Linked DNA regions of Homo sapiens. The protein of the gene in region 1 interacts with the protein of each later gene in a biochemical or structural test. Each region holds a gene or a part of one and is shown on either strand. Other genes may lie near its edges.

Evidence for each region.
Region 2: the proteins of MLLT10 (region 1) and EPS15 interact in a test that uses a peptide from one of them, tested with the Homo sapiens proteins (one large-scale study listed by BioGRID and IntAct).

What each region holds. Positions count from the first base shown.
Region 1 is NC_000010.11:21,536,969-21,540,788, forward strand, and holds part of MLLT10 (protein AF-10), read left to right. Parts: intron 1-1,864; coding exon 1,865-1,944; intron 1,945-3,820. UniProt on the Homo sapiens protein: Probably involved in transcriptional regulation. In vitro or as fusion protein with KMT2A/MLL1 has transactivation activity. Binds to cruciform DNA.
Region 2 is NC_000001.11:51,358,487-51,362,306, reverse strand, and holds part of EPS15 (epidermal growth factor receptor substrate 15), read left to right. Parts: intron 1-951; coding exon 952-1,136; intron 1,137-3,820. UniProt on the Homo sapiens protein: Involved in cell growth regulation. May be involved in the regulation of mitogenic signals and control of cell proliferation. Involved in the internalization of ligand-inducible receptors of the receptor tyrosine kinase (RTK) type, in particular EGFR.

The DNA.
Region 1 (3,820 bases):
TAGAGATGGGGTTTCTCCATGTTGGTCAGGCTGGTCTTGAACCCCTGACCCCAGGGTGATCTGCCTGCCTTGGCCTTCCAAACTGCTGGGATTACAGGTGTGAGTCATTGCACCTGGCCTGGTCTCGAACTTTTGAGCTCAAGGGATCTGCCCGCCTTAGCCTCATAAAGTGCTGGGATTACAGGCATGAGCTGCCTTGCCTGGTCCTACAAATGTTTAACTGGAAGTGGAAGTTTAGCTTTTGGAGTTTTAAAAAGTTATACTGAATTTATATTCTGCTGTGATTGTACAGTGGGTAGTACTCTGTTTTGTGAATTTATATTCTTTCTTTCTTTATATATTTTTTTGAGGCGGAGACTCCCTCTGTCGCCCAGGCTGGAATGCAGTGGGGCAATCTCGGCTCACTGCAGCCTCTACCTCCCGGGTTCATGTGATTCTCCTGCCTCAGCCTCCTGAGTAGCTGGGACTACAGGCACTACCACCACACCTGGCTAATTTCTTTTTTTCTTTTTTGAGATGGAGTTTTGCTCTTCTTGTCCAGGCTGGAGTGCAGTGGCGTGATCTCGGCTCAGTGAAACCTTCGCCACCCAAGTTCAAGTGATTCTCCTGCCTCAGCCTCCCAAGTAGCTGGGGTTACAGGCACCTGCCACCATGCCCAGCTAATTTTTAAAAAAATTTTTAGTAGAGATGGGGTTTCACCATCTTGGCCAGGCTGGTCTGGAACTCCTGACCTCAGGTGATCCTCCTGCCTCGGCCTGCCAAAGTGCTGGGATTACAGGCATGAGCCACCGCGTCCGACCTGAATTTATATTCTTTAAATGCTTTCCAATATTTAAGATATTTTCATATTTCTGCCTAGCAAGCTCATGCAGAAGTCTACTTGGTTATTAGTGTTTTTAGAGTTTTAGAAAATTTTCAGTTTTGAGCTAATTATTAACTTTAAAAACCAATTTTAAAACAAGACTGTGATTAGATATGTGATGTATAATTAAATCATTTGGAGCATTCACATCATTATGTATTTAGAAATAAACATACCTTTTTTTTTTTGAGATAGGGTCTCCCTCTGTTGCCCAGGCTGGAGCACAGTGGTGTGATTATGGCTCACTGCAGCCTTGACTTCCCAGGCTCAAGTCAGCCTCCTGAGTAGCTGGGACTGTAGGCACATGCCACCGTGCCCAGCTAATTTTTTTTTTTTTTTTTTTTTAAATTTGAGACGGAGTTTCACTCTTATTGCCCAGGCTGGAGTGCAATGGTGCGATCTTACCTCACTGCAACCTCTGCCTCCCAGGTTCAAGCGATTCTCCTGCCGCAGCCTCCTGAGTAGTAGGATTACAGGCATGTGCCACCACGCCTGGCTAATTTTGTATTTTTAGTAGGGACAGGGTTTCTTCATGTTGGTCAGGCTGGTCTTGAACTCCCAACCTCAGGTGATCCGCCTGTCTCAGCCTCCCAAAGTGCTGGGATTATAGGTGTGAGCCACTGCGCCTGGCCTAATTAAAAAAAATTTTTTTTTTTTGTGGAGATGGAGTCTCACTGTATTGCCTAGACTGTTCTGGAACTCCTGGGCTCCAGCAGCCCTCCCAACTCGACCTCCCAAAATGCTGGGATTACAGGCATGAACCATTGCACCCAGCCTTGATTTATTTAGATGAGGTAACACAAAAGAGTTGCATTTAAAATTTTTACTTGTTAATTAAGTAAGCTGTATATGTGATAAATAGGATGTGAACTGTTTTACTTCTCTGTAAAGAGGTAGTTTACTTGAATAGTGACAGGTGGATTAATAGGGCTTTGAAAGGGTATTTGATTTTTCCATAGTTCTTCGAATCTTAACATTTTAACACATTTCATTTTTCAACAGCTTGCTATGGCATTGTTCAAGTACCCACTGGACCGTGGTTTTGCAGGAAATGTGAATCTCAGGAGAGAGCAGCCAGAGTGGTAAGGACTATTTATCAAAAACATTAAACTTTAGTGAGTAGGTTAGGAAATTAGGAACTGCACTCCTGTTGTGGTTTGTGGGGTTGTCAGTCATTTCTTCAAATATCATAATGTAAGAGATAATTTAGGCCAAATATTGACTTGGAGTATTAAACAGATTTTGTAAAACTGAAAAACAAATGGAATCAAGTGAGTATATTTTGGATACTTTGAAAACAAAAATACATAGTCATATTTGGGCTTTGTTAACTAGTTACAGAATCAAGAAAGCTTGAAGAAGTTTGAAGGTTACACTGGCTAATCATAGTTAAAATATAATGGAAATAGAAACATAAGGAAGTTACATTGATAATTCTCTTAGGTTTTGTGTAATGGGAAAAAAACCCAATAATTTTAGTGACTATCATATTCCTTTTACTACATCTTTGGGTGTATAGTTTAACTTCGAACACTCACTGATTTCAGGCATTCAGTCCCTTTGGCAAACCAACATAAAAATCTTTTTTTTTTTTTTTTTTTTAACTTGGGTGGTTACCTTATTTCAGAACTTTTCTAAACCTCTTATAAGAATGAAGGAGGTGCCGGGTGCAGTGGTTCACACCTGTAATCCCAGCACTTTGGGAGGCCGAGGCGGGAGTATCTCGAGGTCAAAAGATGGAGACCACCCTGGCCAACATGGTGAAACCCCGTCTCTACTACAAATACAAAAATTAGCTGGGTGTGGCAAGCACCTGTAGTCCCAGCTACTTAGGAGGCTGAAGCAGGAGAATTACTTGAACCCGGGAGGTAGAGGTTGCAGTGAGCTGAGATGGTGCCATTGCACTCCAGCTTGGGCAATAAGAGTGAAACTCTGTCTCAAAAAAAAGAAAAACAAATTACAAACATTAGCTGGGCGTGGTGGCACGCCCTATAATCCCAGCTATTTGGGAGGCTGAGGCAGGAGAATGGCGTGAACCTGGGAGGCGGAGGTTGCAGTGAGCTGAGATCATGCCATTGCACTCCAACCTGGGTGACAGAGCAAGACTCTCAGGAAAGGAAAAAAAAAAACAAAAAGGAGGTAGGCCGGGTGCAGTGACTCACACCTGTAATCCCACCACTTTGGGAAGCCGAGGCAGGAGGATTGCTTGAGTCCAGGAGTTTGAAACCAGCCTGGTCAACTTAGTCTCTACAAAAGAAAAATTTTAAAAATTAGTTGGGGCTGGGCACAGTGGCTCATGCCTATAATTCCAGCACTTTGGTAGGCTGAGGTGGGCGGATCACTTGGGGTCAGGAGTTTGAGACCAGCCTGGCCGACATGGTGAAACCTATCTCTGCTAAAAATACAAAAAATTAACTGGATGTGGCAGCGCGTGCCTATAGTCTAGCTACTCTGGGGGCTAAGACGGGAGAATCGCTTGAATGAGGGAGCCAGAGGTTGCAGTGAGCCAAGATTGTGCCACTGCACTCCAGCCTGCACTCCAAACAGAGTGAGACTGTTTCAAAAAAAAAAAAAAATTAGTTGGGCGTGGTGGCTTGCACCTGTACTCCCAGCTACTCTGGAAGCTGAGACAGGAGGATTGCTTGAACCTGGGAGGTTGAGGCTGCAGTGAACCATGACTCCAGCCTGGGTGACAGAGTGAGAGACTGTCTCACAAAAAACACAGTGAGGGAGGTATGTTTATCCTTTGTATCCACAAGCATTTTTCCCATTTGGATTTCTGAAAATATCAGAAATAGATTTTATTTTCATTAGTTATGCAAACCTACCATTTAAAATATGATAGTTCCTTTTTAAAATCTTATTATATTTATTGATTTATTATTTATTCCAAGACATCTTGTTATAGCAAATTCCTTTCCCTTGGTGTTGATTATGGAATTAGACTGAAGGTAGAGA
Region 2 (3,820 bases), on another chromosome or scaffold:
AAGTGTATAATTTCATATATCTGACCCTTGGCTATTAAATGTTGGCAGTAATTCTAATTTTGCCTACTTTCACAGGATTATTGGAAGAATCCATTGAGATATGAGCATCTTTTCTAAGCAGCTACAGTGATGGAATCTGTTGTTATGATTGCTATTACCAGCTTATGCATTTTAGGAAAAAAATATATTTGGAGATATTTTGACCCCTATTTTTATTATCTTTTCTTCAAGAAGTACTAAGTTTAAGTAAGACTTAGAGAACTTGTTTGAAAATGGTAATGAATTAGTGAGTGACTAATAGGACAGAATACTATTGTTTGGTCAGAGATTATTTGATCAGCAACCGCAAAGATTTAGGCCCTGGGCTTCAAAACATTTTTTCTTCATTTTGAAATACAGTAAATAACAAAAAATTGGCAGCATTTTACTACGGTAATTTAAAAATTTTATGCTCTTAGGTATTGTATGTAGAACTAGAGAAAAATCAGAAGAATTTTCCCAGTTTTCAGAGGTCATTTGCTCTTACTGCCACTAGTGGATAACTGTTATCAGGCTGAGGGCTGTAACAGCAGAGGCAGGCCATTTCTGTCTTTATTCTTTATTATTCTCCTTCTGTTTAATCCATTCGTCTCTCCTTTTGGGAACATGCTGCTTGGGTGTGGCTAGGGGATGGTGGGATTCAGTCTTTGGACAAAAATATGATTCCTGGCCCATCCTTACTTTGCTATTTGTTTCATTAGCTGCACATAGCTGGAATCTATTTGAGAGATCATGTGTGAAGAATTTGAGGACAAATTGTTGGTGTAGCTATTTAAGACAATATTCAGAATGTGTTTTAGGTACTCAATCATCCTCTACCCACAGTACTTTAATGCTATCTGTGTACATGTTCTTGTGTGCTTGTATTTGCTGTATTTACTGGTTGAATTAATTGTAATGATTTTGATCCAGGGAAAAGATCCATCAACAAATTGGATTCTCCTGATCCCTTTAAACTGAATGATCCATTTCAGCCTTTCCCAGGCAACGATAGCCCCAAAGAAAAAGATCCTGAAATATTTTGTGATCCATTCACTTCTGCTACTACCACTACCAATAAAGAGGCTGATCCAAGCAATTTTGCCAACTTCAGTGCTGTAAGTACTGTGAATGAGCTGTTTGGGGGAGAAATCTTTAAAGAGTTTTCAGAGATTATTTTGGAGTCTGCCAAGTTTGCATCATTTTAACTAAATTTACCAAGATACTAAAAATGATCTTTCATTCTTCCCCCAAGCAAAACCTCTGTTTGATCCTGTTTTGACAGTTCTACGGTTGTTCCATCGCACAGATGATTTTAGTAGTCCCAGTTCTTGTCATATACACAAGTTGTTTTGTAAATCTTTCTCTTAGTCTTGGTAATGTAAGTAAAATCCTAACAGTTATTATTTTGTGGATGGTTATGGGTGATGGTGATTTAATGAACAATTACAGAGTCATTGCTCTCTGCCCACTAGATGAATAATGCCAGTAATAAGTTTGTGTATTTGCAGCTGTGTATGTGTGTTTGTGTATAAAGTTTTAATGATTTCTGGAGACCAGTCAGCAAATATTATATGAGAGGATAGAGCCAGAGATTCTTTGAATAGAAAGTAAAACTATTAAACTTACACAGTAGCTTTTTAAAAATGTAAATGCCAGTTTTATGAAATAAATAAATAAATGGTTGTCAGGATTTAAACAATCTTTATTTGGAGGGCCCTAATTCACTAACTTCTCATGTTTACTCTGCGTTCTTTCAGAGATGTCTAAAATAGGAAGATCGTTAGAAACAGTGGAAGGGTGCCATGATAACAGCATAAGCAGGGCCTATAAAATCACAGAAATGGGGCAACCAACCATGGAGGTATCAGTCTAGAGAGACATAAAGCAATGTCATATATTCCATCATTATTCAGTAAAAAAAGTTATTTTTTAATAAAATTCTTAGACCGGGTAACAAATTTTCAGTTTCACAGTTTTTTCAGGCAAAATAACCTTCGTTATCATTGCCTGTTCTATAAAACAGAGATTTTCTTCTATTTATCACCTTATGCCCTTGAGATGATTTTGGAAATAGATCTAGTGGCCAGGTAACTCTGCCTAATATTTCCCTCCTCAGTGTAGCATTGGGCCATTCAACCAATTGCTTTATTCCTGCAGCTGTTTCTAGTTAGAAGGGAGGTAGTCAAGAATCTGCATGCAGGCCGGGCGTGGTGGCTCACGCCTGTAATCTCAGCATTTTAAGAGGCCAAAGTGCTTTAAGCACCTGTAGTCCCAGCTACTTGGGGGGCTGAGGTGGTGGAGGTTGCAGTGAGCTGTGATCATGCCACTGTACTTCAGCCTGGGTGACAGAGCCAGACCCTGTCTCCAAAAAAAAAAAGAATCTGCATGCAACTAAGACGACTGAGCTCCCAGCTTTTGAATCTGTACTCTAAGTTCTGGTGGCTTCTCTTGACTATGAAGGAGCAAAATAGGAATCAATATTTTGAATATTGTAAAAATGGAGTGCCAGAATTATACTGATTTTTTTTTTTTTTTGAGATGAGTTTTGCTCTTATTGCCCAGGCTGGAGGCGCGATCTTGGCTCACCACAACCTTCACCTCCCAGGTTCAAGCAATTCTCCTGCCTCAGCCTCCCGAGTAGCTGGGATTGCAGGCATACCCACCACACCTGGCTAATTTTGTATTTTTAGTAGAGACGGGGTTTCTCCATGTTGGTCAGGCTGGTCTTGTACTCCTGATCTCAGGCGATCCACCGGCCTCAGCCTCTCAAAGTGTTGGGATTACAGGTGTGAGCCATCGCGCCCAGCCTTACTTAACTTTCCTTTTTTTTTTTTTTTTTTTTAAAGACAGAGTCTTGCTCTGTCGCCAGGCTGGAGTGCAGTGGCGTAATCTCAGCTCACTGCAACCTCCACCTCCCAGGTTCAAGCAATTCTCCTGCCTCAGCCTCCCAAGTAGCTGGGACTACAGGCACGCACCACCACACCTAGCCAATTTTTGTGTTTTTAGTAGAGACGGGGTTTCACCATGTTGGCCGGGATGGTCTCGATCCCTTGATCTTGCAATGTGCATGCCTTGGCCTCCCAAAGTGATGGGATTACAGGGGTGAGCCACCGCATCCAGCCCGACTTAACTTTCATTAGATGGAATTTGATTTGTTTCAAGCAGAGAATCAAAAATTGGCCTTTTTAGAAGGTTATAATTCTCTTAGTGTAAAATAACCCTCTGGTAGTTTGTGGCATTTAATATCTTAAGTATGGTTTTAGCAAGTCAAACTCTTGTTGGGGCCAGACGGGGTGGCTCACACCTGTAATCCCAGCACTTTGGAAGGCCGAAGCGGGCGGATCACTTGAGGTCAGGAGTGTGAGACCAGCCTGGCCAACATGGTGAAACCCCGTCTCTACTAAAAATACAAAAATTAGCCAGGCATGGTGGCGCATGCCTGTAATCCCAGCTAGGGAGGCTGAGGTGGGAGGATCACTTAAGCCCCAGAGGCAGAGGTTGCGGGAGCTGATATAGTGCCACTGTCCTCAAGCTGAGTTACAGAGCGAGACTCCGCCTCAAAAAAAAAAAAAAAAACAAAAAAAAACAAATCTGGTTGGAAGGAGTCTTGAACAACAGCTGAGGCATTTTGCTCCAAAATCTCAATATAGTATAATAAAAAACAGCTTATAATAAGAACATCTTCTTTTTTCATTGTGAAAGATGTGGTTAAGCATTACACGTTTCAAAGTTTTGCTTAATTCCCTAGGGAAAAAAACTACCATTTCAAAAGCCTGACAGTGTATTTTATTTCATCCTT